Linked DNA regions of Homo sapiens. The protein of the gene in region 2 purifies or fractionates together with the protein of the main gene of each other region. This does not show direct contact. Each region holds a gene or a part of one and is shown on either strand. Other genes may lie near its edges. The genes, in order: NDRG3, FXYD1, ATP6V1D and THNSL1.

Region 1 (7,318 bases), on a different chromosome or scaffold from region 2:
GGGTATAAGCCTCAGACTATCCTACTGCAACATGCAAATGAAAAGTACCCTGTACATCGAAATAGCATATACCAACTCCACTGTAAACAGGCATTTTTCCCTGCTCAGAAGTAACAATTTAGAATAAAACAAAAGCAGCCGGGCTCGGAGGCTCACGCCTGTAATCCCACCACTTTGGGAGGCAGAGGCAGGCGGATCACCTGAGGTCAGGAATTCAAGACCAGCTTGGCCAACATGGTGAAAATCCGTCTCCACTAAAAATACAAAAAATAGCTGGGCATGGTGGCGGGCGCCTGTAATTCCAGCTACTTGGGTGGCTGAGGCAGGAAAATCGCTTGAACCCAGGATGCGGAGGTTGCAGTGAGCCGAGATTGCGCCACTGCACTCCAGCCTGGGCAACAAGAGCGAAACTCCGTCTCAAAAAATAATAATAATAATAATAAAACAAAAGCAGCTCGGCCTGGCTTGGTGGCTCACGCCTGTAATCCCAGCACTATGGGAGGCCGAGGCAGGCGGATCACGAGGTCAGGAAATCGAGACCATCCTGGCTAACACGGTGAAACCCTGTCTCTACTAAAAAAATACAAAAAAAATTAGCTGGGGGTGGTGGCGAGCACCTGTAGTCCCAGCTGCTCAGGAGGCTGAGGCAGGAGAATGGCGTGAATCTGGGAGGCGGAGCTTGCAGTGAGCCGAGATGGCGCCACTGTACTCCAGCCTGGGCAACAGAGCGAGACTCCGTCTCAAAAAACAAACAAAAACAAACAAAAAACAAACAAAAAACAAAAGCAGCTCAATCGTGAGTGCACGTTCAAGTAACATAAACAAGCTTTTTTTTTTTTTTTTTTTTTGAGACGGAGCTCTGTTGCCCAGGCTGGAGTGCAGTGGCGCGATCTCGGCTCACTGCAAGCTCCAGCTCCCGGGTTCACGCCATTCTCCTGCCTCAGCCTCCCGAGTAGCTGGGACTACAGGCGCCCACCACCACACGCGGCTAATTTTCTGTTATTTTTTAGTACAGACGGGGTTTCCCCGTATTAGCCAGGATGGTCTCCATCTCCCGAACTCGTGATCCACCCACCTCGGCCTCCCAAAGTGCTGGGATTACAGGCGTGAGCCGCAGCGCCCGGTCCATAAACAGGCTTTTTGATGCAAGACTCTTATCTGCAAGTTTTCAAAAACAACAGGGTGGATGGAGGCCTTTGAGTGGTAAATGGTGATGACAAGTTTAATCTGAAGGAAGAGACAAGCAAAGAGAAACTGAAGGGCAGGAAGGAGGAACAGAAGGGCACCAGAAGAACACCACGCTTTGAGTAATGAAAAGGGGGGGTGGAAATTAACTGAGTCCTTACCAAGGATCTACTGTGAGCCAGGCATCTGGAGCTGCAAAGATGGACCATGCCCTCAAGGGGCTAGAAGTCCGCAGGGTAAGACTGAGGCTAAGACCCTGTTTTGTGAACGTGTAATTCTAATTGGGAAAATCAAGCAGGGAAGGCTTCACAGAGAAGGTGGTGATTTAGTGGAGCCTTTGAAATGTGGAGGAGGATTTGCTAAGGGAGAAAAACGACAGTTTGAGCTAGTTATTTTGGGGGAGAAACATTCACATATTTTTATAGCTGTTCATTTGGAACTTTAAATCATGGGAGGCTTCTTAAATTCAGCACCACTCTATCAATGTTCTCTTTCTCTTCTTGCTTTATCTTAAATACTGAAATGTTCAAGCCCAACCTTGGGGCAAAGGCAGAAAGCCTCGGACAGAAAGCCCCGGAATGAGGTGAGTGCTAGCCAAATCTGCTCTGTCACCTCCAAGTCCAGCCCGCCCAGCTAGCCCAGTCAGCCCAGTCCTGCTCTCTTGGCAGGAAAGGAAGGCTAATAATATCCCCTGAGGGCCAGGGTAAGGGGGGGGGGGGGCGCGGCGGGGGTGATCTGGATGCCAGCAGGCAAGGATCACTCTTGTTCTGTCAGTAAGCCACCAAAGGAAAGCTTCCCTGCTTCCTAATCCACGGGGCTCCTAGTCTACCTGTGATAGGGAGGCCAGCTCTGCAGGAAGAAAAAAAGGGCTTCATGACAAGGAAGGGGGAAGCATTTGGATTGGGAAGTGCAGAGGTGGTTATGCGAGGTTATCTTAATAAAATGCTTAGCAAGATCCCTGGCACACAGCGAGCGGTGGAAGAACGTTAGCTCTTATATTAATAACACTATTATTATTACAGTAACACCTCAATTGTACTCCGACAACAAGAAAATCTTTTTTGTGCAGCCTACTTTTACGACGTTCGAGAGCAACTTCAGAGATGACAAGTGATTTCAAAATTTTTTCAAAGGTACGAGATCAAATTCCAACCGCACTGGCCTGAGAGCCCGAGACCCTGAGTTGAGAGCTGACCCTGCCACTTGTCAGCTGCGTGACCTTGGGCATGGCACTTCACCTTTCCGTGCCTCAGTTTCCTCGGCTGTTAAGTGGGGCTAAGAAGCCTCTCCCCGGTAGGGTAGTCGTAGGGTCCCGTTAGAGGATGCCCTCTGCTGCTCTGGGGCCGGACGGGTGCAAGGGCTGCTCACGGCCCCTCTTCCAAGCATCTGGGCTCTTGGAGCGGGCGAGGTAGATGGATGAGCAACCCCAAGGCCCACCAAGCTCTGCCGCCTGCAGAGCCAGAGCGAGAGAAGGGTTCGCGCCTGCGGGGGGCGTCCCTGTGACCCAGGGTGTTGAGCCCGGAGGGAGGCTCTCTTGCTACCCACACGCTGTCGCCGGCGGGCTGGGCGCGGGGAGCGGCCGAGGAAAGCCGGGCTGACCTGGGTCCGGCGGGCGGGCGGGGCGGGGCAGAGGGCCCCGGGGGCACGGGGGAGGCAAGCAGCACGGGCCACCAGGGCCTCGCCGTGCCGCGGAGATGATGCGGGGAAGGAGCAGGGCAAAGGAGCGACGCCCCCGAATGCGGCGCCGCGCGCCCCCCGCGGGCCGGGCGGAGGCGCTCACTCACCTGAGGCGCGGGCACCCGCCGTCAGTGCAGCAGCAGCGGCGGCGGCGGCGGCGGCGGCGGCGGCGGCGGCGGCGGCGAGAGGGGCGGGGGAGGTGCTGCGGTCCGCGCAGGCGCGCCGAGGACGCCAGGGCGGCGCATGAGTGCTGTGCCCGTCCACCTCGGGAACTACCGAGAAGATGGTGGCTGAGCCAGGAGAGGCCGGCGGCGCCATCTTTGATGTAGTTTTTCTTGCTGCGGAGTTTCCTCAGAGAAGAATCTCAGATTTTGGAGGCGCTGGGCGGCAGGGCCATTGAGCTCTGCGTCTGGAGCGCTTCCCTCAGTTCCCTGAGTCGCATCCTTATGAAGCCCCTAAGAGCTCTTGCAGGGTATGGCATCCTCCTTTTAAGGTGACCTAGAGCCATACCCAAGGTCACAGGGCGCCTAGCACAGTGCTCGGCACGTGGAAAGAGCTTAGTAAATTTTTGGTGAATGAACATAGTAATTTAAGAACTAGAGTCCAAGACTCAGGGCTCCGAATTACCAGTCCTCCATTGTATCACCCCTATTACAACCGTCAGCCAAATCATCTACTTTCTTGAATGCAACATTAGAGATGGAATTTTTTTTCCCAGAATGATTGCAGATATTAAACTTAATGACCCAACAATTTAACACCAAAATGTACAGGACACACTCTTCCTCTATTTATTATCTATTATTTCTTTACCATTAAGTACCACTGACTAAAAGTTTTTTTGTTTTGTTTTGTTTTGTTTTTTGAGACGGAGTCTCACTCTGTCGCCAGGCTGGAGTGCACTAGCGCGATCTCGGCTCACTGCAACCTCTGCCTCCTGGGTTCAAGCGATTCTCCTGCCTCAGCCTCCCGAGTAGCTGGCACTGTAGGCGTGTGCCACCGGGCCTGGCTAATTTTTCTATTATTAGTAGAGACGGGTTTTCACCGTGTTGGCCAGGATGGTCTCGATCTCTTGACCTCGTCATCTGCCCGCCTCGGCCTCCCAAAGTGCTGGGATTACAGGTGTGTGAGCCACCACGCCCTTTTAACCCGAGCCAGTGTCGCCATCTCGGCTCAGGTTCCCAAGTCCCTCAGCCTCCCAAGTAGCTGGGACTAGAGGCGGGCGCCACCATGCCTGGGTAATTTTTGTATTTTTTTTTTTTTAGTAGAGATGGGGTTTCACCATGTTGGCCAAGCTGGTCTCAAACTCCTGACCTCAAGCAATCCGCCTGCTTCTGCGTCCCAAAGTGCTGGGATTACAGGTGTGAGCCACCACGCCCGGCCACTAAAAGCATATTCTTTTAATTAAGGCAAACTGAACAAATGAATATTACCAAACATCTCAGAGGGCAGCAATAATATTGTTATTCATCAAGCACAATTCTTGAACTGAATTTAGTTGGAAGGAAAACTAACATTAATTGAGCACAGCCATTTATTTTATGGTTTATGTTCGTTAACATTTACTGAATTCAAATTAGTTCTAGTTCACCATCCACTATTTATCCCTATGTCCTTGGTTAGACAATTAAGTCTCTCCACACCTCTCCATGCCCGAATTCCTCATCTATGTCACACACCCAGAAATAGAAGTTACAAGGTTGTGGCAAAGACTGAATGATAATATGCATGTAAAATGCTTAGAGCTCAGTAAGTATTATTTTTCTTTGTTCTATCGTATTTTACTGTTGAAGACACAAAACATACTTCTTGAGTTTGAAGAAATCCTTATAAGCAAAAAATGCAATACAATGTAATAAATAAAAAGGGGGAGGGTATAATCATCTTTAGAGAGATAATCTGTCCCCATTTTACAGATGAGGAAATTGAGGATAAAATGAAAATTCATGGCCGGGCGCAGTGGCTCACGCCTGTAATCCCAGAACTTTGGGAGGCTGAGGCGGGCAGATCATGAGGTCAGGAAATCGAGACCATCCTGGCTAACAAGGTGAAACCCCGTCTCTACTAAAAATACAAAAATTAGCTGGGCGTAGTGGCGGGTGCCTGTAATCCCAGCTACTCGGGAGGCTGAGGCAGGAGAATGGTGTGAACCCGGGAGGCAGAGCTTGCAGTGAGCCGAGATTGCGCTGCTGCACTCCAGCTTGGGCAACAGAGCGAGACTCCGTCTCAAAAAAAAAAAAGAAAAAGGAAAATTCACTCCAACTCTCTCCATTGTACTACTTTGTTTATGAAAGAGTAGGCAATTAAGAGCATTTCTCTGATTCTTGAGATACAGATAGAGATAGATATAGACGAGGGTCTCACCATGTTGCTCAGGCTGGTCTAGAACTCTTGGACTCAAGCAATCCTCCTGCCTAGGCCTCCCAAAGTTCTGGGATTATAGGCATGAGCCACTGTGTCCCGCTCTGCTCTGATTCTTAAATGTTGGATTTCCATGAGACCATCCAAACTTTCCCTTCTTGCTCTACTGTGGACTATATCATTCATTCTCAAGTCATCAAGAACTAGACATCAGCAACTCTCAAATGTTATTTCCAGTCTCGATTTCTCCACCCAGTTCTCCACCTGTGTTATTTGACAGACCAGTTGATTTCTCCATTTGGTATTCCAAATAGAACGAGCTTTCCCATCTCAAATTGCTCCATCATCTACCCACTGTTCAGGCTTCACCTCCTGCAGCATACTGATACCGCTAAACTTTTATATTATTTAATTCTTACAGCATCCCTGTGATATAGGTTCTATAATTCTCTCAACCTTCGAGATAAGAGATTAAATAAATTTTTCAGTCACAGTTAATAAATGGCAGAGTTAGGGGTTTTTTCTTTTTGAGACAGAGTCTTGCTCTGTCATCCAGACTGGAATGCAGTGGCACAATCTCGGCTCACTACAACTTTCACCCCCTCCCGGGTTCCAGCAATTCTCCCACCTCAGCCTCCTGAGTAGTTGGGATTACAGGCACCTGCCATCATGCTTGGCTAATTTTTGTATTTTTGTAGAGATGGGGTTTCACCATGTTGGCCAGGCTGGTCCTGACCTCAGGTGACCCACCCACCTCAGCCTCCCAAAGTGCTGGGATTACAGGCATGAGCCACCATGCCTGGCTAGAGTTAGGTTTTTAACACCTAGGTTACATGCCTATGTTCTAGCCACTGTGGGCAACACGAGCAGTCCCACCCCACTCATCCACTGCCAACACCCAGCACAAGCTGTCATTTCTCTCCTAGACTCCTGCAATAACCTAACTGGTCTCCCACACCCATACCTTGCTATCTTTTCCCCACACCACAACTAGAGTACTCTTTTAAAAATAAAGTTCTGATCTTCTCGCCCTTTCTTGAAGCCTTCTAATGACTTTCAATTATACTTGTCTCAGGCCAGTCTTCTACTGGTGCCCAGCACTCCTGCTTTATTCTTTTTTTTTTTTTTAAGTGTCCCAGCATGCTCCACTGTCCTCCTCAAGCCTTTGAAAATTGCTTCTCCTTTTGCCTGAAATACTTGCCCCATTTAACTCCTTCATCTTTCCCATGTCAGCTAAAATATCTCTTCTGCAGAGTTTTCTCTTGTTCCTTGTATCGTCAGCAAACTGAGCATCATGAGAGAGAACCCATGTGTTTTTGCTCTTTGCTCCCTCCTCCAATCCTAGAACTGTGTGTGGCATATGGCGGGTACTCGGTAAATATATAAAGGAATAAAGAACAAATGTAGGTCCAAGCAAGGAGATGTCATTTCTCATTAACTGGCACTTGCGCCAAGGTTTAAGACTTAAGATTATGACTGGGTGTTTAACTGAAATGGGATTTGTCCCTTTAGTGGGATCAGAGAATAAGAAACATTTTATTTTGGCTGAGCACAGTGGCTCACACTTGTAATCTCAGCATTTTGGGAGGCTGAGGTGGGTGTATATCTTGAGTCCAGTTTGAGACCAGCCTGGGCAACATGGAGAAACCGCATTCCTACGAAAGTACAGAAGTTAGGCCAGGCACGGTGGCTCACGCCTGTAATCCCAGCACTTTGGGAGGCTAAGTTGGGTGGATCACCTAAGGTCAGGAGTTCAAGACCAGCCTGGCCAACATGGTGAAACCCCATCTCTACTAAAAATACAAAAATTAGCCAGGTGTGGTGGTGCATGTGTGGAATCCCAGCTACTCGCAAGGCTGAGGCAGAAGAATCACTTAAATCCGGGAGGCAGAGGTTGCAGTGAGCCAAAATGGCACCACTGCACTCCAGCCTGGGCAACAGAGGGAGACTCTGTCTCAAACAAAACAAAACAAAAATTAGTCAGATGTGGTGGTGCACACCTGTAGTCCCAGCTGTTTGGGAGGCTGAGGTGGAAGAATTGCTTGAGCTCAGGAGGTTGAGGGTCCAGTGAGCCATGAGCATGCCATGGCACTAC
Region 2 (7,551 bases):
TCCTCCTGGGCCCCAAATGCTGTCCCTGCCCTCTGGGGTTTCCTTCTGCTCCTTCCCAGATGCCAGCACCCCTCTTCAAGGCATCCCGACAGGCTTTGCTGCCCATCTCCTGAGATCCTGATGGGCCCCTGTTTCCCTGGAGACCCGGCACCACATCCCAACCTCTGGGGTCCCAGGACTTCCGTCCCCACCTTCGGGCATGCAGAAGGCTGGACACTCACAGTGACAGCAGGGTCGGAGAGAAGCTGACGGGCAGGTCCGGGGAGCCCTCACACAGGGCGCTGTCTTTAGAGCAGGAGCAGCGCAGGGGACACTTTCCCTTTGGGGGTCTCCAGGCCACCACCACCCCCGCCCCAGCCAGCAGCAGCAGCAGAATGCCTGCCCCTCCCATGCCCCCACCCCCACTCTGAGGCACCCGCTTCTCCCGGCCCACCCAGCTCAGCCCAGGCCACTACGTCTCCTCCTCCACCAGGCCGCCCTCCATCCGCCTGCTGGCACGCTCGGCCCTGGCTTCTCTCTCCTCTTCTCCGTCTTTCTTTCAGTCGGCCTTCCTCCCTGTTCGTATGTCTTTGGTGTCTAATTTTCTGTTTCTCTTTCTCCCTGTCTTTCTGTCTCTGTATTTTTGACTCTGTGTGTTAGTCTGTTTCTATTTCTGTCTTTGTCTCTCTTTCTGCCTGTTTCTTTTTTTCTGTGTTGCTGTCAGTCTTTCAGGCTTTAGGTAGCTGTCTATCTGTTGGTCTCTATGTGTGTGAGTGTATGTGAGTGTGTGTGTGTCCTGCTGCCTGGTGTCTTGATTTCTTGTCTCCTGCCCCCCCCACCCCCCCTTCCAGCTCCCTGCCTGTAGTTTCTTTGCCTCCTCCCACCTCCCTTCTCCCCGAAGGTTTGGGAAAGGGGTTCGCTGGACACCCGGCACACCCGGCAGAGTAGGATGGGAAGGAGGAGGGGGTCAGAGGCCATGAGAAGGTCGGCCTTGGGGGAAGGGACTGGACAGCCCCACAGGAGGGGGAGGGGCCACCAAGGGCTGGAGCCGCCCCACCACTCCCGCCAGCCCCCTCCCCAGATTCCCCACTCAACCCTATTGGGGGAGCAGGAGGACGATGTCACCAGGGTGGGGACCAGATGGCTCTGCATTCTGGAGCAGGGTGGGAGGAGAGGCCCTGGGGGGGCTGGGGACATCCCGTCCTGGCCACTCTCTGCCAGCCCCCTCCCCTGGCTACAGGAGGGTGTGTTGGGCGCTGTCAGTGGGGCCAGATCACGTCCAGCTGCTCCCTCTGGTGGTCATACTCGGCAGGACCTCTGCCCGGCCCCAAGCCCTTAGCCTCCCTCCCCTACCCTGAAATTAACCCTCTAGTGGCCAACACCCACTGGGGGACAGCACCAACCCGAGGACATGATGATGATGAAGATGATGATGATGGTGAAGATGATGATGATGATGCCACCCCTTCTTCAGCGTCTACTCTGAGCCTGGCCTTGTCCTAAAAGCTCATCTATTAACTCATTCTGATCTTGCCAAAGCCCTCTGAAGTTAGTGCTGTCATCATCACCACTTTACAGCTGGAGGAAGTGGAGACAGAGGTCAGGGAACCTGAACTCTAGGTTACCCAGCTGAGGGCACAGCCGGGATTCAAACCCAGGCATCCGGCTCCAGGTTATTTTGCATTCTTTCTTTGGAGATCAGAGTTCATGGATAGATGGATAATTGGTTGTTTTAATCTGGACTAAATTTTAGTCATTTGGATAGATTCTGTCCACTAAATAAGAAACATAAGTAAATGACACTTGTTAGCTAAGATGAAATAGTAGTAATGTTTATACTCACTCAGCCTTCACAGCCACCCTGTGAGATGGGCAGTACTGCTATCCCTGCTTTACAGATGGGGAAACTGAGGCACAGGGAAGTTATGTGATTAGTTTCCTGGCTCTAGTCAGCTCTAAACCTAACCCCTAGGCTGTACCACCTCATCGCCTGGGGACGAGACTCATCCTGTGATTGAGGAATGCATGCAGCCTCTCTTGACACTGACGCCCACGCCCAGAAGCCTCGTTGGAGGATAAGGGGGCTTAACAGCTTGGAGGTCATGCAGATCTGGGTTCCAGGCCCAGTCCTGTGTGGCCTCAGTTTTCCCATCTGTCAAACGGGGACAATCGTGGCACCCGCTTCCCAGTTGTGGAGAGGACTCAGGTGATGGAGGCAACTCATCCTTTTGGGGTTCAGCACAAGGTGGGCATCCCACAGTGGTCGGCAAGCTTGGGGGTGGGCTCCGGATCCAGCTCCTAGAGGAGCAGACCCCAGCAGCTTGTGGTTTGAGCCATGCCCGTCAGCTCTCAGTTTCCTTCACTGACTATTGGGTATGATAAACAGGGTCCCTGAAAGTGAAGTTGGAGAGCTGAGTGCCAGGGGCACAGAGGGATCTGAACCCACTCTCATAGGGTGCCCAGCCCAGCAGTCCAGTTCACAAGGAGGAGGATGACAAGGACAATAATAATAGGCCAGGCACGGTGGCTCATTTCTGTAATCCCACATTTTGGCAGGCTGAAGTGGGAGGATCGCTTGGGGCCAGGAGTTCAAGACAAGCCTGGGCAACATAGAGAAACCCCGACTGTACAAAAAATTAAAAAATTAGCCAGGCATGGTGTCGCACGCCCATAGTCCCAGCTACTCAGGAAGCTGAGGTGGGAGAATCACTTGAGCCCATGAGGTTGAGGCTACAGTGAGCTATGATTGTGCCATTGCACTTCAGCCTGGGTGACAGAGCAAGACCCGGTCTCAAACAAACAAACAAAAAATGAAGTTAATCATAAGACAATGTCAAGTTCAGAGACCTCTGAGCCCTGTCCAGGATTATACACGTGATCTTAGTGATTTTTCCATTTTGGAGCATGTGAAAATGAGGCACAGAGCTGCTCAAGTTCACACAACCAGGAGTGCAGTGCCTGGGCCATTCCAGGTTTCCCTGTCACCAGGACCTGTAAACCTGGCCTGCCCATGGGGACGCCAGGTGTGTTGTCCCCGACAAGAGCTCAGGGGAAGGAAAGTGTGGGGTTAAATACATATCTGTGGTTTTGGAATGTGTGAACATGCAAGTGTGTCAGCCTGCGCATCTGTCACCGTGGCCAACCATGTGCCTGTTTGCTCAAGCATAGGGTGTGAACCAGTGTGTGTGTTTCTGCTTTTGTGGGTATGTGTGAGAGCGGCGGGTTGTCCTTGATGGTGTTTCTGCTTGTGTATCTGTGCCCATGGAAATCTGTCTGTGTGTACACAAGCTTGTTGGCCTTCCTATCTTTGGGACCATGTAGGAGTGCTGGCTGCATGTCTGTACCTTTGGGGTTTTTTTGTTTTGTTTTTGTTTTTGAGACAGAGTCTCGCTCTGTTGCCCAGGCTAGAGTGCAGTGGCATGATCTCAGCTCACTGCAAGCTCTGCCTCCCGGGCTCAAGTGACTCTCCTGCCTCAGCCTCCGGAGTAGCCGTGATTACAGGCGCACGCCACCACACCCAGCTAATTTTTGTATATTTTTTTAGTAGAGACGAGCTCTCGTCGGGTTGGCCAGGCTGGTGTTGAACTCCTGGCCTCAAGTGATCCTCCCGCCTTGGCCTCCCAAAGTGCTGGGAGTACAGGTGTGAGCCACCGTACCTGGCCATGTTTGGCCATGCATCTTAGAATGCATTTATGTGCGGTGTGCACATACTTGTGTGTTTCTGTATGGCCATTTGTGGGTGGGTCTTCACATAAACATGCATTTTTGTGGCCAGTTTGTGAGTGTAGATGGTGATGTGGCTATGTCTTTGACTGTATCTCTGTGTGGCCATCCATCTACATGAGCGTGCGTGGGTCTGTGTAGACATAAATGTGCTTGTTCTGGTATTTTGTGACTGGCATAAAAGGTGTTGGCTGTGTGTCCGGGTCTTTGGGTTTCTCTATCAGTGTGTCATTCTGTGTGTGTCTGCTTCTATGGATGTACATACATACATGGTTTTGTCTGGTTTTGTACCTGTATATCTGGGTCTTTGGGATTGTGTGTGGGTGTGTGTGTGTGGTGCATTTCTGGGGATCTCACCACAGCAGATAGCGCACATGCGCGCGCACACACACACACACACACACACCTCCCTCCCGTCCTCTAAAACAGCCCTGTTAAGGACCTCACGGAGCACTGGGATCGGGGGTCAGTGGGCTCCTGGGCAGTCAGGCTGGGTGACCTTCGGCCCTGGCTGGACCCAGTTCCCAGGGGGCAGCCGCCTCAGCCCAAAAGCTCTTGGAGGCGTGTGTGTTTGTGTGTGTGTGTGTTCACAACCCTGTCCTCCACAATCCTCCTAGCCTCTCCAGCCTGCCTGCTGGCTGCCTGCTGCTGCTCTCTCTGAACTGAGAGAGTTAACCAAGCGGGCCAGGGCAGTCTGGGCTGGGGGCCGCCCCCTGGCCCCCCTCCAGCCCCAGCTCCAGTTTCAGCTGCTGGTTGGGGAGGGCATGGGTGGGGTGGGGCTGGGAGGGGAGGCTGCTGGGGGCGGCGCGTCCAGCTCTGGGCCAGGGGGTCCAAAGTGCTCAGCCCCCGGGGCACAGCAGGACGTTTGGGGGCCTTCTTTCAGCAGGGGACAGCCCGATTGGGGTGAGCGTCCCCCACTCCTTCCCTCCAGGCCTCACCCCTGGTCTGGCTGGGCCGCCTATTTTGGGAGCAGGAGTGGCCAGCCCGAGGCTTCCCAGGCAGGCCAACCCAAGAGGGAGGGAGTGTGGTTGAGGCAGTGGGTTCTGCAGGGTGGGATGTGGGTGACTCCTCCCTGCCCTGCTGGTGCGTGTGCACCCTGGCAGGGTGTGGAGTTGGGACACACACGTGTGTAGGGCTGGTTGCGTCACTGCGTGGGGGCACCGGAGGCCCAGAGGAGGAGTATTGGATGCCTGACGGTGTTTACACCCCACGTCCTGCTCCAACCAGCAGTTTGGGGAGAGGTTGTTGTTCATGTCCATTCCGGCCCCACTGTGTGTGTGTGTGTGTGTGTGTGTGTGTGTGTGTGTGTGTATCCCTGCCCCAGCATGTGTTTTCTATCTCTAAGGCCCACTGGGCTGGGCCTCATGTCACTTGCCTGACATCCGATTGTGAAAGATGTCACCCAGAGGCGGGCAGAGGGGCTGTCTTTTCCTTTTCTCGTTGCTGCCCAGGGAGGAGACGGGGTGACCTTTCCCACAGGGGCAGCCTGTGGCGATGTGGCAGCTGGGCCTCACCCCGGCAGGGCTGTGCGTGACCCCCTGAGTGGGGGAAGGCAGGCTGTTGCCATGGTGGCCTGAGCGAGCAGAATTCCTCCAGGGTGAAGTGGGAGATATTTATACCCGGGGTCAGGCCGCGAGCGGGCGGGCGGAGAGGGCAGGGAGCTGGGATTTCGCGGGGCACAGTGAGGCCGGGCATGTAGGCAGGTGGGACTTGGGCGTGCCCTGCTGTCTCCTGCTCTGTGTTTGTGTGAGGCAGCGCCTCCTCTGCCCTGCCAGGGTAGGTCTGGGAATCGGGGGCCTGCTGCGGGAGGTGGAGGCCCAAGGGAGGCCCCCCGGGGACTGTGTGTCTCACCCCCGTCCCTGCTACGTTGTGTTGTTGTGTGATCCCATCGTGGAGGTTGTTTTGGTGACACTGTGTCCCCACGAAGCTGGGGATACCCGTTTCTCTAGCTTGGAGCCACCAAGATAGAGGACAAACACTTCTGTGATTCAGTCCCCAGACTGTCTCTGACTTAATCCCTTGGGTTCAAGCCCTATGTGGGAGAGCAAGGGCACACACTGCCTAATCCGTGGTGTCCCCCCCAGGACAATGGCGTCTCTTGGCCACATCTTGGTTTTCTGTGTGGGTCTCCTCACCATGGCCAAGGCAGGTGAGTGCAGGGGAGGCTGCCCGCTACCCACCTCAGCCCCAGGGGTGGCGGTGGGGACCGAAGAACCAAGTTGGAGACCCCAACCTAGACTAAGTCGGCTGGGGTACCAAGAAGTTTGGGGGTCTCCACGTGGGGTCCAGTCACAGGCTGGTATTTGGGGGAGGGGAGAGGAAGCCCCAGATCAGGCAAAGATGGGGTGGGATGGGGCTGAATCCCCGATGGGATAACTGGGTCACAGACAGCCTGCCGTGAGTCAGGGAGCTGGGGCAGTTAGGTGCCACCTGCCCCATCTGGGACAGTGCAGAGGGGGCAGCTGGGACCCAGAGAGTGTGGGCAGCCTGCCCAGACACCCTCAGACTCTAAGCCCAGCAAGGCAGAGCCTCCAGTGGTCTCCTCATGCCCCTCCCTGCCAGGACCCCAGGAAGCATTCAACCCCTGATTTCTCTCTCTTTCCAGAAAGTCCAAAGGAACACGACCCGTTCACTTACGGTGAGCGGGGGGTCTAATTTTGAGTCCTGGGGGAGAGCCTGGCTTTGCTGGTCCTTTGATTCCCCCTCGCCCTCCCCCAGAGTCCCAGTATTGATATCTCTGTCATTCTCCTTCCCTCTATTTTGTCCTTCCTCTCTGATTCCACCTGTCTGCATCTTTTCCTGTCTGTGTCTATCTGTGTCACTGTCTATGTGATACCTCTCTGGTTCTCTTTCTCTTGCCTGCGTCTGTCTCAGCATCTCGTGGCCCATCCTCTGCTTCTTCCCGTCTTCTCTCCCCCCTGTCCTCCTCCTCCCTGTCCCCTCCCTCCCTTTCCTATACACCCCTTTCCTCTCCCTGGTACCCCACTTTCCTCCTCCCATATCTGCTCCCCCTTAATTATCTTACTTCCCCCCTTCTGCCTGCTGGTCCTTTCTCCCTGTTCCCTCCTTCCCAATTTACCCCTCTCCTATTCTCCCTCCTGTCTTCCCTGCCCTCACCTTCCCTGCTCTGCTGCTCACAGACTACCAGTCCCTGCAGATCGGAGGCCTCGTCATCGCCGGGATCCTCTTCATCCTGGGCATCCTCATCGTGCTGAGTGAGTGCCCCTAGCTCCCGCCCTCTACCCCGCCTCTCCCTGGCCCCACCTCTCTCTGGCCCCGCCTCTCCCTGGCCCCGCCTCTCCCTAGCCCCCCTCTCCCTGGCCCCGCTTCTCCCTGGTCCCGCCCCTCCCTGGCCCCGCCCCGCCCCAACCCCTCCCAGGCCTTGCCCCGCCTACCCTGCCTTGGTTCCCCGGCCCCCGGTCTCGCCTCTAGCCCCGCCCCGTCCCCCAAGCCCCGCCCCTCGCGAGGGCGAGCTGGAGCTACAGCGCCGCTTGGCGCCCGCCGGGAGGGAGCCTCAGCTTCTCCTACCTCTCCACGCCCACAGGCAGAAGATGCCGGTGCAAGTTCAACCAGCAGCAGAGGTAAGACGCCCCTCCCCGCCCTCCTTCGCCCGCTCCTGCTCTGGAGGGCGCCGCGGGTGAGGCGGGGAGTACCCCTGACCCGCAGCCCGATCCCCGTCAGCGACTATGTATTAAGCACCTACTATGTGCCATGGCCCAAGCCTGGCCCTGGGACCAAGCGAGGAAAAAACCTCCCGCCCTTCCTGGCCGAGCTCCCAGCCTAGTGGAGGCGGTGGCCGTGGGTTCCAACAGCCCCACAGATAGAAAAATCACAAAGCGTGATAACACA
Region 3 (7,023 bases), on a different chromosome or scaffold from region 2:
TTTTCTAGCAGAGGGTGGAGATCAATCAATAGTGTATAAGTGGTATGTGAGTGTTTTAGGGTGGTTATGGGGAAGATACTTTCTATAATATTTATTTTTGTTTTGTTTTGAGATTGGGTTATGAGACTGGCTAATTTTTGTATTTTTGAGTTTCACCACATTGCCCAGGCTGGTTTTGAACTCCTGGCCTCAAACAATCCTCCTGCCTCGGCCTCCCAAAGTGCCAGGATTACAGGCGTGAGCTATCGCACCCTGCCAGGAAGGCACTTTCTGGTAACATTTGAGAAGTCACACAAAGCCAGATGGAACATAGTTTCCAGGGTAAAGGAATTGAACGCCAGCTTAACCAATTCAATAGCAAACCTAGAAAGGAGTTTTCTCTATCTCACACTAGCAGAAGAATCCTTAAAGTTATATCCATGTAGCACACCTCTGACTGAAAACATAAGCAATCCACGAACTTTAAAATCATTCTTTGTTCTTTTCTTACTGCTAATGTTTTGAATATTGTTCATTCTCTGCTTTCAGAGGCCCTCCTCTAGCAGTAATGACTTTTCTCCCTTTTTGGAAAAAGGACAGTTATCAAAACATACTTAATTGTGACATCTCACTCTTGGTCTCATTTAATGTTAAAACTATCCAGTGGGTCCCTGTAGGTTTATTTCTGAAGAGTCTGCTAAATAAAGTCTTTCTCTTTTTCTGCAGCACTACAGTTATCCAAAATGTCAATAAAGCGCAAGTGAAGATTCGAGCGAAGAAAGATAATGTAGCAGGTAACGTTTCAACCTTTTAGAAACCCTTTGGGGAGAAAAGAGGTGACATTTTAAAATTAACCTGTTTATACAGCAAGATCTTAATGTCCTAGTTTCTTCCTTCTACTTAGAACAAGTTGATTGGCTTTACATGTTAAAATCATTAACAACCAGGTTTCTAATTACTCAGGATAACTTGACTTTTGTATAGAAGTGAACACTTAAGAAGGCAGGTTCCGGCTGGGCACGGTGGCTCATGCCTGTAATCCCAGCACTTTGGGAGGCCGAGGTGGGCGAATCACAAGGTCAGGAGTTCGAGACCAGCCTGGCCAACATGGTGAAACCCCATCTCTACTAATAATACAAAAATTAGCCAGGTTTGGTGGCACGCGCCTGTAGCCCCAGCTACTTGGGAGGCTGAGGCAGGAGAATCGCTTGAACCCGGGAAGCGGAGGTTCCAGTGAGCCGAGATTGCACCACTGCACTCCAGCCTGGGTGACAGAGCAAGACTCTGTCTAAAAATAAAAAATAAAAAAATAAAGAAGTCAGGTTCCACTGGATGTGGTGGCTCACACCTGTAATCCCAGCACTTTGGGAGGCTGAGGTGGGCGGATCACAAGGTCAGGAGTTCGAGACCAGCCTGGCCAACATGGTGAAACCCCATCTTTACCAAAGAATACAAAAATTAGGCCGGGTGTGATGGCTCACACCTGTAATCCCAGTGCTTTGGGAAGCCAAGGTGGGCGGATCGCCTGAGGTCGGGAGTTCGAGACCAGCCTAATATGGAGAAATCCTGTCTCTACTAAAAATACAAAATAAGCCAGACGTGGTAGCGCATGCCTGTAATCCCAGCTACTTGAGAGGCTGAGGCAGGAGACTCACTTGGACCCAGGAGGCAGAGGTTGTGGTGAGCCGAGATTGCGCCATTGTACTCCAGCCCAGGCAACAAGAGCGAAACTCATCTTTAAAAAAAAAAAAAAATTAGCTGGGCATGGCATGTGCCTGTTGTCCCAGCTACTCAGGAGGCTGAGGTGGGAGAATCACTTGACCCCAGGAGGCGGTGGTTGCAGTGAGCTGAAGACCACACCACTGCACTGCAGCCTGGGCGACAGAGTGAGACTCTGTCTCAAAAAAAAAAAAAGAAGGCAAGTTCCTAAATTCATTAATTGAAACCAATTACAATTCCATACTTAAGCTCTTGATTTTTGAGTTTGATGAAAAAGAAACACAGAAAACAGTGATTAAGAAACAGAATTTAGGCCAGGCGCGGTGGCTCATACCTGTAATCCCAGCACTTTGGGAGGTTTAGGCGGGTGGATCACCTGAGGTCGGAAGTTCAAGACCAACCTTACCAACATGGAGAAACCCCGTGTCTACTAAAAATACAAAATTAGCCGGGTGTGGTGGTGCATGCCTGTAATCCCACCTATTCAGGAGGCTGACCAGGAGAATTGCTTGAACCTGGGAGGCAGAGGTTGCGGTGAGGCGAGATCACGCCATTGCATTCCAGCCTCGGCGACAAGAGCAAAACTCCGTCTCAGAAAAAAAAAAAAAAGAGAGAACTTAAAGGTTTATGAATCCATGTATGCTTCTGTGTTTAACAGGTGTTACTTTGCCAGTATTTGAACATTACCATGAAGGAACTGACAGTAAGTGTGAAACTTTTTGTATTACTTTGTGTCTCTGGGATTTCCTGTTTCCTCTTTAAATGAACTAAGTTCTGGAAAATGGTGCTAGATGTTGAGAGGTTCCTGAGTTAGAAATCCTCTTATTTGATATAGTCAGGACAATAGTTGATCAGTTAATCAAAAGGTCTTAAGGCCGGGCACAATGGCTCATGCCTGTAATACTGGCACTTTGGGAGGCTGAGGCAGGCAAATCTCCATCTCTACAAAAAATATAAAAAATCAGCCAGGTGTGGTGGCACGTGCCTGTAGTTTCAGCTACTTCCAGGGCTGAGGAGGGAGGATTGCTTGAGCTGGGGAGGTAGTTGCAGCGAGTTCTGATCACGCCACTGCACTCCAGCCTGGGCTACAGAGCAAAACCTTGTCTCAAAAAAGAAAAAGGTCTTATGCTAGGAAGTCATAAAACATTATACATATCTTAAAATATTTCAATATTTTATCAGAAATATATCAATGTAGAATCACTTGCTATTTAAAAAATATAAGGCCTTTTGAATATGAATTCACTGATTAGACTTCTGTGTTGTTTTTCTGCATATCCTACACCCACAATGCACTGCTTATAATTCCCAGTTTGGGTCTCTTTAAAGTCAAATAAGATCTTAGACACTGATGCAACCTGAATGCTGATTCTTTCTAGATTTTTATAGCCCACTTCCACTTTTTAAATAACTGTCTTATTCATTCCATTCCTAGTTTGACAGCATATTTTCTTTCCAAAGTAAAGTATTAACTTTTTTCATAGAAACAATATTCTTGGCCAGGCACAGTGGCTCACACCTGCAATCCCAGCACTTTGGGAGGCTGAGGCAGGTGGATCACCTTAGCCCAGGAGTTTGAGACCAGCCTGGGCAACATGGTGAAACCCCGTCTCCACCCAAAAAGTTACAAAAATTAGCTGGGCCTGGTGGCATGCGCCTGTGGTCCCAGCTACTCGGGAGGCCGAGGTGGGAGGATTGCTTGAGCCTGAGAAGTGGAGCTTACAGTGAGCTGAGATCGCACCACTGCACTCCAGCCTGGGTGGCAGAGTGAGACCCCATCTCAATAAATAAATAAACAAATAATATTCTTTCTTTTGGCACTTGTATTTCCTTGCTTCATGTGATATTTAATTAAATCATATAGAATATTAAGTACATTTCATACGAAGAAGTAGAGCATTCTAGAGAGAGTCACCTGTTCACAGAGTGTCATCGTACTCTGGGCATCAGGCAGTATGATTTTCAAAGGGAATAAGGGGCATCAAGCTAGTGAAGTGAAGGTTGGTTAAAAGCTTCCTTTGTAGTTATATTTAGAATAGTATTCTTGTGGGAAACTGTATTTAGTAGCATGCTCCTATAGTGTTTGGGGAGTGAGATAGGCACTTCATGTTTACATTCAATGAAGATTAGTGAATTCATCTTTCCATATTTGTTATTATTCTGAATTATCTCCTTTTGGGGAATTTTATAGGGAAGATATTTTACTCTAATTAAAAATGTTGTCTGACTGGTCCTTTCAGGTTATGAACTGACTGGTTTAGCCAGAGGTGGGGAACAGTTGGCTAAATTAAAGAGGAATTATGCCAAAGCAGTGGAACTACTGGTGGAACTAGCTTCTCTGCAGGTAAGTAGCAAAAGACCTGGAGAACTCCTGTAGTTTGATTTGTAACAGTCAAGTGGAGGAGAGTCAGGTCTTGAGTCAGCATATACTGTGCTTTGTACTTTTAACTGTTCCCATGATCCTATGTAAAGCAAACATAATATTTTGATTTCTGAAGTGATGGCTTTTGTACCATTGTCCCTACTTTTTAAAATTTATGTATTTTTTATTTTTTTGAGATGGAGTTTTACTCTTGTTGCCCAGGCTGGAGTGCAATGGCGCGACCTCGGCTCACTGCAACCTCTGCCTCCTGGGTTCAAGTGATTCTTCTGCCTCAGCCTCCCAAGTAGCTGATTACAGACATGTGCCACCATGCCTGGCTAACTTTTGTATTTTTTGTAGAGACAGGGTTTTGCCATGTTTGTCAGGCTGGTCTCGAACTCCTGACTTCAGGTGATCCACCCGCCTCGGCCTCCCAAAGTGCTAGGATTACAGGCATGAGCCACTGCACCTGGCCCCTACTTTTAATTTAAAAATTTATTTATTTTTCGAAATGGGGTCTCACTGTGTCACCCAGGCTGGAGTGCAGTGGCATAATCCCAGCTCACTGCAACCTTAACCTCCTGGGCTTAAGTGATCCGCCCACCTCAGCCTCCTGAGTAGCTGGGACTATAGGCATGCCCCATCACACCTAGCTAATTTTTGTATTTTTTGTAGAGGTGGGGTTTCACCATGTCGTCCAGGCTGGTCTCGAACTCCTGGGCTCAAGTAATCAGCCCGCCTCATCCTTCCAAAGTGCTGGGATTATAGGTATGAGCCACCACACCCGGCCCCTGCTTCTTCTTGTTAACAAAATGTATGTGCTATGGTACACTCTTGTTTTTTTTGTTTGTTTGTTTGTTTTTTTCTTTGAGACAGAATCTTGCTCTGTTGCCCAGGCTGGAGTGCAGTGTTGCGATCTTGGCTAACTGCAGCCTGGATCTCCTGGGCTCAAGCAGTCTCCCGCCTCAGCCTCCCAAGTAGCTTGGACTACAAGTTTGTGCCACCTCGCCTGGATAATATTTTTGAATTTTTTAGTTGAGATGAGGTCTTGCTACGTTGCCCAGGCTGGTCTCAAACTCCTGGCCTCAAGAAATCCTGCCATCTCAGCCTCCCAAAGTGCTGGAATTATAAGTGTGAGCCACCTCACCCAGCCCAGTTTCACTCTTTGCTAAGTAAGAATAGCAAGTTGATACTAGATTTAAATGTAAATGTAAATAAACATCGTTTGTGCATGGAAGACCATTTTTTCCCCTATGTGGCCAGTTAGTATATATCTAGGTTATTAATGCTTGATTCTTTCTTGTCATTTTTATGTTGTTATTTAGGTGAGACTATAGTAAACAAATTATAATAGTGTCAACTCAAGTAAAGCCTGTTGAAGCAGAAATGATTTGATAAAGGTTTATTGAAAGCCAAATGTGAGGATTGACCCGGGAAGACACCAACAAAGTTGGGTGTGTTCTAGAGTCTGCTACAAGTTGGAAGGCTTTTATGGGAAAGTTTAGGAGAAGGGAGGACTCCTCATACCCAAGTTGTCCTTTTCATTGGCGAGTACAATACAGAGGTCACAATCATTGGCTACAGATTACAAATACAAGCTAAAATGTTCTACATGCAAGTAAATCATGAAGTAAAACTTCATGAATCAGAAACAAATCAGTGTCATTTTCAGCGTCAGTAGGTTGCATATTAATCAGTATGTCAGCAGTCTGAGAAACTTAAGATTTCCTTACTCAGGGACAGGATGTAAACCATGAATCATAAGATCCCTCAATCTGCCCAGGCAGGTTAATTTGGAAACCTACCAAATGTGACATGTAGGTTATCAATAGCATGGAAATAGTGTTAGCCCTATGGAAATCTCACAAGAATTTTGTTTTTGTTTTGTTATGAAGAGACAGGGTCTTACTCTGTCACCCAAGCTGGAGTACAGTGGCACAGTAATAGCTCACTGCAGCCTCAAACGATCCTCCCATCACAGATTACCAAGCAGCTGGGACTACAGGTGCATGCTACTACACCCAGCTAATTTTTAAAATTTATTTCTTGTAGAGGCAAGGTCTCATTGTGTTGCCCAGGCTGGTCTTGAACTCCCAACTTCAAGTGATTCTCCCACCTCAGCCTCCCAAAGTATTGGGGTTATAGGCGTGAGCCATGCGCCCAGCCTAAGAATTTTGTTTTTTAAGCATGCCAAAAAGAAGTTGTCTTGGTTCTCAAATGTTTTCTACAAGTGCAGTCTTAGTGGAGTCAAGTGATCAGGGAATGATTAGGAAGACTTTGTGCTTACATTATTAATTTGTTCTTATTTTAGACTTCTTTTGTTACTTTGGATGAAGCTATTAAGATAACCAACAGGCGTGTAAATGCCATTGAACATGGTGAGTATTAGGTACTGTGAGGTGCTTTGTCACTTGTCCATACCCTCCACTTGTCGTGAAACTGCTAGAATTCAGGGACTGTACTGAAGACTGAAAGATGAATAAGATGCTTCCCTTGCCCACAGTGCAAAGAGAGAAGTGTGTCCATAGTAAAAAAAAAAAGTGTTATGAAGTGTTCTGATAGAAGTACTTGTATGATCTGGGGGAGTTACACACATAGGAAAGTGGTGACTTAAAAATTATGGAATGTTTTCTTCATTTCCAGTTATTCATGCAGTTATTTAAGGGTAGGAATATTTCTCAAGATCCTTAGTGTTTTCTGTAGTTCTTTCTAATGGTTGAGTGATGCAACTTTTTGAGTACATTAAATATTTAACTTTAAATCAGTATAAGCCATTCTCCTTGATTTCTAAAAAATTTCCCATTTGATGCACTTATTTTCCATCTCTTTTATTTCACTATTTAAAAAATATGACTGCTTAGTGTTGATGGTACTTTTTGCTCAATAAACTTAGTTTTTATTAAAGAAACACTCAATTTTAGGTAAGAAAGCAAAATTTGAAGTAAAGAAATTCCTTTGCTTGG
Region 4 (7,023 bases), on a different chromosome or scaffold from region 2:
CATAAATCATGGTTAAAATGTATTACTACAAAGGAATACAAATTAAATATGTGTATCAGTTGTGTGCAGTTTCAGCTGCCAGAAAAAGACAATGTTCACTGAAGAAATAAACAACAAATTACGTAAGAATTGACTCCAAATAATATAGGGAAACTGCTGTCTACAAATACACTCCTATTGAGACTACTCAAGTACTCTTAATTTTGGAAAACCTTCCTCTTGAAATAGATCATTTCTGTATTCACTTCTAAGTAGTTCTGCTTACTGTTTCATCCTGGATTTCAGTTATGTGTTGATTTTCAAACATCGTCACCCTAACCGTACACATCCAAAGGAGAGTGAAGGACAGAGTACATCTTTAATTTGGACAGTGTGAGATACACATTAGTTGTAGTCCAAAATGGAATTTGAGGAGGGTTAAAAACACTGGCCCTAGCCAGGTGCAGAGGCTCACGCCTGTAATCCTAGCACTTTGGGAGGCCGAGGTGGATGGATCACCTGAGGTCAGAGGTTCAAGATCAGCCTGGAAAACATGGCGAAACCTCATCTCTATTAAAAATAAAAAAATTAGCCATGTGTGGTGTTGCATGCCTGTAATCCCAGCTACCTGGGAGGCTGAGGCAGGAGAATCACTTGAACCTGGGAGGCGGAGGTTGCAGTGAGCTGAAACTGCACCAAAAAACAAACAAAAAACACTGGCCCAAATCCTAATAGAAGAGTTTACTACTTCCTCCATTCAAGTTAGCCATTTTGAGTGGTAAATTAACTTTCTAATCAACAGAGTATTCACTAGTTACAGATGTAGTACCTGAAAACTGGGCTTAAATATTTTAATCGCCAAATAGTATACCAGACATTTTGGTCCACATAACAGTGAGGGTGTGGGAGTGGAAATTGATACACCCCTCATGAGCAGAAGGCAAAAGTATGATAGCTCAAAGGTCCGTGCACTGTGTTACCTTTTGTCACTTCCAGATTAAAGATCTGAGGAGGTGACATGGAGTTCTCATGTCAGCCCTAGAGATCAGACTTTTGAAATTCCAAACAGATATAGAGATATTTACATAAAAGACAAAATGCTACTGTACTCCAAATCAGTGTTTGAGATTTATTATTGCATGCTTATAGCTAGAAAAAAAAATTTACTCTGAAAGCTTTCATATGAATTGATTTTGGACAAGTTGTTCCACATGACTCTTCAAGACATTCATATCAGCTGCACAGACCTGGTACTCCATCTTCTCTTGCTGTTTTGTTCTCTCTAATAAAGCCTCATGCAGTGGAGGTAATGCATTGTATGAACCCAGCAAATAGAGCTGACTTGATGAAGTCTCATTGATTTCTTTAATCTTTAAAGCCTGCATGATAGCAGGTGCAAACTTTGAGTAATGGGCTGTAGATGAGATAATCACAGGGCAAGTTTTGTCTTGCACCCTATCTGCAACCACTTTTGCAACAGCAGTGTGTGGATCCAAAATATACCCTGAAGTATTATAGGTGGAGTTAATAGCTGCTAGGCACTCTCCCTCAGAGCACCAGTCAGCTACAAAATCCTGCTGAAGTTTCTCAACTAGAGCCTTTTCTATCTGGAAATGATGCTGACTTTCTAATCGATTAAATAATTCTGTCATTAGCTGTCCATCTTTATTAGCCATCAAGTGTAAATGTCGTTCTAGGTTTGAAGATTTGAGAATATCTATTGACGGTGAAAAGGTTTGTGCTAGTTTTCTTTCCCTTAGATCATAATGTCCTGTTTTTATAAAATCAGTCAAAACATGGTTCTGATTAGAGGCACAGATAAATTTTCGAATCGGGATTCCCATCATTTTGGCATACACTGCTGCTAAAATGTTACCAAAGTTTCCTGTGGGAATACAGACATCGACTGGGCTTCCAAAAGAAATAAATCCTTGACTAACAAGATCAAGATATGCGGAAGCATGATAAACTACCTGCGGAAGTAGTCGGCCCCAGTTTATGGAGTTAGCCGAACTTAAGATTGTTCCATATTCCACAGTAAGAAAGCCAGTAAAATCAGAATCATTAAAAATTCTTTTTATAGCTGTCTGGCAAAAATCAAAATCTGACTCAACACCCACTGCCCATCCATTTTCTCTCTGACTGCCAATTATTTGTGCTTTTTGAAAATCACTTACTCCATTCTCAGGAAAAAATGCAACCACAGCTATCCTTTGCTTATCATTCTTATTTAGACGACTAAAACCATTTAAGACTGCACTCCCTGTGTCTCCTGAAGTAGCTACAAGTATCATATAATTGCAACTTGGTGGGATACAGTGTGCAAAAATATGAGGCATAAGCTGTAAAGACAAATCTTTAAATGATCCTGTTGGTCCATGAAACAACTCCAGGATGAACTGGTTGCCTGAAAGGTGCCTGACAGGAGCAATTTTTGAGCAGGCAAAGTTTTCCCCATAAGCAGTTTCAATCATTTCTCCCAACCTGGCAGCAGGTATGTCTGCAGGATGGATACATCTTTCCAACAGTATCTGTGCTCTTTCTACGTAGGTTGCTCCTACTAGGCTTTTCCACTCCCCGCAGCTTAATTTTGGAAACTCCTTTGCAGGAACAAAGAGGCCACCATCAGAAGCCAACCCCTCAATTACAGCTTCACTAAAGAATTTTGCTGAAACCTTCTGTTCACAGTCTTCAGGCCAAACGTGTCTTGTTGAAATGAATGTTTCCGAGTCCACATCTTGGTATCTTTTAATTGCATTCAGCACTTTGTCAGCTACCTCCTCTGGGGAAGCCCCACTTTCACAGAAAACACGAGCATCATACCACTTCTTATAATACTGTCTTCTAAATTTAAGTAAGTCTTTCATAGATGTTCCAGAATTCTGACCTACAATCCTATCTGTCTTCATTAATTTTAGACGACAAATTAGATCTAGTAGAGGTACATCCAGGTATACAATTATTCCATTTTTCTTCAGATGCCACATGCTAGCATCATGCATTGGATTGGACCCAGTAAGGGAAATCACACTTCCAGATGCAGAGAAGTTTAACACAGCTTTTCCTTCCTCTTCTAAAAATTGCTCATTACCAACATCCTGTAATTTTTCAGACACACTCATATTCCAGGTTTTTTCAAGGATATCATCATCCACATCTATGACACAACAACCTAGTTTCTGACCTATTATTCTGCCTACTGTTGTTTTCCCAGCACCAGGAGGTCCCATCAGGATAATATTTTTGTCTCCAACAAGAGAGTGGGTTGAATACCATGACTTCCTCAATTCCGCAAGTGCAAAGGTTCTTGAAAGAAATCGCTGTGCATGTTTATCCGTTTTAACATGTATACTAGAAAAACATTTCTGTGTTATCTTTTTCAGATGATGACATCGGTTAAAGTGGAGCATTCTCTTTTCACTTTTCTGCCCAAGCCAACCTAAAAATTGGCTTTAGCCCTTTTCAAAACACAAAACAAACAAAAAACAACAAAAGATAATTTGGTTACTAATTACAGTAGATTGTTAAAATCCCAATAGGACTGAATATAACCATGCCCATGGTACATAAACTGTTTAAAAATCTTCCAAACTTATGGAATTAAAAAAAGTATTCCAACCCAAATTCTTATATATTGCATATTATCCTTTTAATGATATCTTTTAAAATCTCAAGACACTGAAAAATCAAAACTTTGACAAAATTTGTAACTATAAAAAACAGAAACTTGTATTCACAAAGTGCCAGATTGTAGATGCTTTTAAAAGTATATATACACTAAATCAAATTACTATTTCTTTTCATATTGAGATCTTTTAATGAAAATTATTTCATGGTTTATCAGTTTATATCACATATAAAGATGATTTGGAGTTGGAGTGCTATCTACTTGCAATTCACAAAAGTTGAACAATATTCTTTATATTTAATTTCTCTTCAGTTATATGAACATTGTGACAGACTATATTACTCATAAATTTCTTATAGAAGTCATAACAGGAAACCAGAATAAAAGAACATATTTGCTTATAAAATGCTTAGTTTTCCAAACTACAGGACAAAGGTATGACATTTTCTTTCTTATGTGCCTTTTACACGCATATTAAGAATCATTGTTACATATTATTCATATTGAAGGCTTTAAAAAGAGCCAAGGTGAAAGGTATATTATACAAATAGTTAAGAAAAATTAATAATCAGCAATGAGGTCAAAGGCTACATATAACCTTATCTGCACAGAACCATCACTTTTGTTTCTAACCCTATAATCATCAGTGGAGAGATTTAACTCAATTTCCAGACCCCAGGGCCACAGCCAAGAACCTCAGGAATGTTTCCAATGATGAGAGACAACAATTATTCTGGCATCCAAAGAAGCTCTATAATTTCCCATATTGACCAAGTCCTTGTCTTTGGAAATATACTCACCATTAAAACAAAAATGTATGCCAGACAAGTCAAGTTTTTAGTTACGTAAAATGCAGTATAATACCTGTGCAATGTTCATGTAAATTGCCTGAAGTAATGTCACAGACACATAGTGGGGCTTATCACGTGTTCTCTGGTAGAAGCAATATGCAACTAAACCATATTAAATACTAGATCATATGTTAAAATATGTTCTGAAAACTTTTAATCATGTAATACTGACTTTCTATGCTACTTAAACTCTGTTCTGTAATTAAACATTTAAATGATTTTAAGCTAACTCTGAATTTAACTTACAAGTAAAATTAGAGCCGTCAAGGGAGGTAATTCATTTCCTTATTTGACTTTTCAATTTATATGTGTTGTGCTTAATTTCCACTGACTTGTAAACATAGGACACACCGGAACCAATCTGAAGAGTTTGTTGACTCTGAGGCAAAACCGATCTTTGCAAAACGTGGAGTCTATAATGGAAAAAAATTTAAGTTAATCATAACTGTATAGAGTATCATAAAATTCTACACATAGACTAGTCTATTATTTGAAAAGCTCATCTGAAATTTTAAAAATACAGAAAAATTGACCCTTTTCATATGTTTCCCCAAATCTGTTATTAGAAGATTAAAATACTGTTTTTAAACATGTGTGTCTCATTATAAAAAGAATTTCACTAAACAGTACTGAAGGAATTTCTACCATCAAGCAATAAAAAACCAAATAATAACAAATATAAAACTTTTCAGAAGGATATCTGGAATTTTAATGATTTGGCTGTATAATGATCAGAGGGGAAAAAGTCAGCAGACTAAAGCTATGAAATTAGTGTCTGAGTTGTTTTTTAGGCTATATTATCTATCAAAATCACTATATATTCATATGTAATAATATCCACTATAAAAAGCCCAAATAAAACTCTTGCCACAAAAAGATACCTCTTAGCTATATAAGTGTCTATAATAAAATCAAAGCACATATCATAGTGGTTAGCACAAAATATTTACAGTAAGATTAATCATTGTCACTCACTGACAGTGGGCTAGGAATATATAAATTGAACCCAAATATGTAGGTACAAGGCAGGGTGCATTTTTTTTATGGTTTGGTTTATAAACCTTCAGAGAATACCGTGGTGTTCACCCACGAATCAAGAACTGTTTTGCCATGCACAGTCTAATCCTTTCCCTGAAGTAAACCAGGGACCAGAAAGAATTATATACTTGAACCATAACATCAATTTATTTTATTAAACCATATTCTGGTACTGGACTTTAAAAGCACAAACTGCTTTTAGGGCACTTACATAAAACAGTCTGATTAACCTCCTATTCAGGAAGCTTTTGCTTGTAACATTACAGTTTCTTCTTTTTGAGTTTGCAATACATAACTTTCTGATACCTGTATTAGTAATAATTGTATATAATCTGAGTAGATGGTTTTCATGAGCAGTAATTTTTTTTTTTTTTTTGAGAAAGGGTCTTCCACTGTCACCCAGGCTGGAGTGCAGTGGCATGATCTCAGCTCACTGCAGCCTCAACCTCCTGGGCTCAGGTGATCCTCCCACCAGGTGTGCATCACCACACCCAGCTAATTTTTGTAGGTTTTCTAGAGACAGGGTTTCACCATGTTGCCCAGACTGATCTCGAACTCCTGAACTCAAGCAATCCTCCCACTTTGGCCTCCCAAAGTGCTGGGATTAGAGGCATGAACCACCATACTGGCCCAGTAAATCTTTCATCTTTTCTTCCGCTTTATATTGCTTGCTACCATGCTTAACATCAACTTCATTAAAAGTAGATTGTAAGGAAACATTATGTTACCTTCACCTTATGTTTTGCAATCTTACTTTTCCTATATGTTAGTTCCCCTCTACCCTCTTGTTTTTAAATTTTACTTCACTTCCCTTTTTCAAGACTTTGGGGTAGATATATATAGATATAGATATAGATATAGATATAGATATAGATATATTTTAAAGAAAATTATGACAGTTCAATTTGTAAATTCTGTATCAATATTATTTCCCACAAACATGTTCCTTAGACTAGCAGAAGGCAGTTAAGTGCTATAATATATATTATTTCTAAAGAACAATAAAGATATATTCTATTTTAAGCTACATACTAAATTTTATTTTGTAACATTTAACCACAAATTGATTTTAGGGGCTCAACATTTTTTAACCAACCAAATGAGGAAAAGACATCCTCATTTCTTTTTTGAGAACGTCTGCTGCAATGGCCACTCGGGAATATACATAGAAGGCATATATATGGACTTCACCAAAGCATTACACATGGTTCATTTAAAATTTTTTTAATTCACGGAGAAATGGAAAAAAAAGATTTGAGGATATTGTTGAATGATCATAAAAATGGTTCTGTTGAATAGAGGGAAATTTCTGGTAGTGCACTCCAAGGCTTTTGGTCTTGACACTCTTCTCTTTCATGTGTTTAACAATTATTTGGATTAAGCATTGAGAGGGATATTGGATAATTAGCAGTTAATAGGACTGACTTTAGAGTGAGAAAAATCTGCAGATGTGCAAGTCCTTTATATAAAATGGTGTAGTATTTGCATATAACCTGTGCACATCCTCCTGTATACCTTAATCTCTGA

The links.
Region 1: the proteins of FXYD1 (region 2) and NDRG3 purify together in Homo sapiens (affinity purification with mass spectrometry; 2 studies listed by BioGRID and IntAct, with this or other methods). This does not show direct contact.
Region 3: the proteins of FXYD1 (region 2) and ATP6V1D purify together in Homo sapiens (affinity purification with mass spectrometry; 2 studies listed by BioGRID and IntAct, with this or other methods). This does not show direct contact.
Region 4: the proteins of FXYD1 (region 2) and THNSL1 purify together in Homo sapiens (affinity purification with mass spectrometry; 2 studies listed by BioGRID and IntAct, with this or other methods). This does not show direct contact.

The regions. Positions count from the first base shown.
Region 1 is NC_000020.11:36,743,076-36,750,393, forward strand, and holds the start of NDRG3 (protein NDRG3), read right to left. Parts: upstream 3,016-7,318; 5' UTR 2,970-3,015; exon of another isoform or gene 2,424-2,969; intron 1-2,423.
Region 2 is NC_000019.10:35,134,290-35,141,840, forward strand, and holds the start of FXYD1 (phospholemman precursor), read left to right. Parts: upstream 1-4,534; 5' UTR 4,535-4,605; intron 4,606-4,845; exon of another isoform or gene 4,846-4,943; intron 4,944-5,132; exon of another isoform or gene 5,133-5,299; intron 5,300-5,344; exon of another isoform or gene 5,345-5,478; intron 5,479-5,629; exon of another isoform or gene 5,630-5,736; coding exon of another isoform or gene 5,737-5,790; coding exon 5,791-5,851; intron 5,852-6,307; coding exon 6,308-6,340; intron 6,341-6,842; coding exon 6,843-6,917; intron 6,918-7,246; coding exon 7,247-7,283; intron 7,284-7,551. Other genes in the region: LGI4 (leucine-rich repeat LGI family member 4 precursor), read right to left, coding at 222-391. UniProt on the Homo sapiens protein: Associates with and regulates the activity of the sodium/potassium-transporting ATPase (NKA) which transports Na(+) out of the cell and K(+) into the cell. Inhibits NKA activity in its unphosphorylated state and stimulates activity when phosphorylated.
Region 3 is NC_000014.9:67,342,787-67,349,809, reverse strand, and holds part of ATP6V1D (V-type proton ATPase subunit D), read left to right. Parts: intron 1-705; coding exon 706-773; intron 774-2,356; coding exon 2,357-2,401; intron 2,402-3,938; coding exon 3,939-4,042; intron 4,043-6,371; coding exon 6,372-6,438; intron 6,439-7,023. UniProt on the Homo sapiens protein: Subunit of the V1 complex of vacuolar(H+)-ATPase (V-ATPase), a multisubunit enzyme composed of a peripheral complex (V1) that hydrolyzes ATP and a membrane integral complex (V0) that translocates protons.
Region 4 is NC_000010.11:25,019,590-25,026,612, reverse strand, and holds part of THNSL1 (threonine synthase-like 1), read right to left. Parts: intron 4,872-7,023; 5' UTR 4,705-4,871; intron 3,438-4,704; 5' UTR 3,390-3,437; coding exon 1,158-3,389; 3' UTR 1-1,157.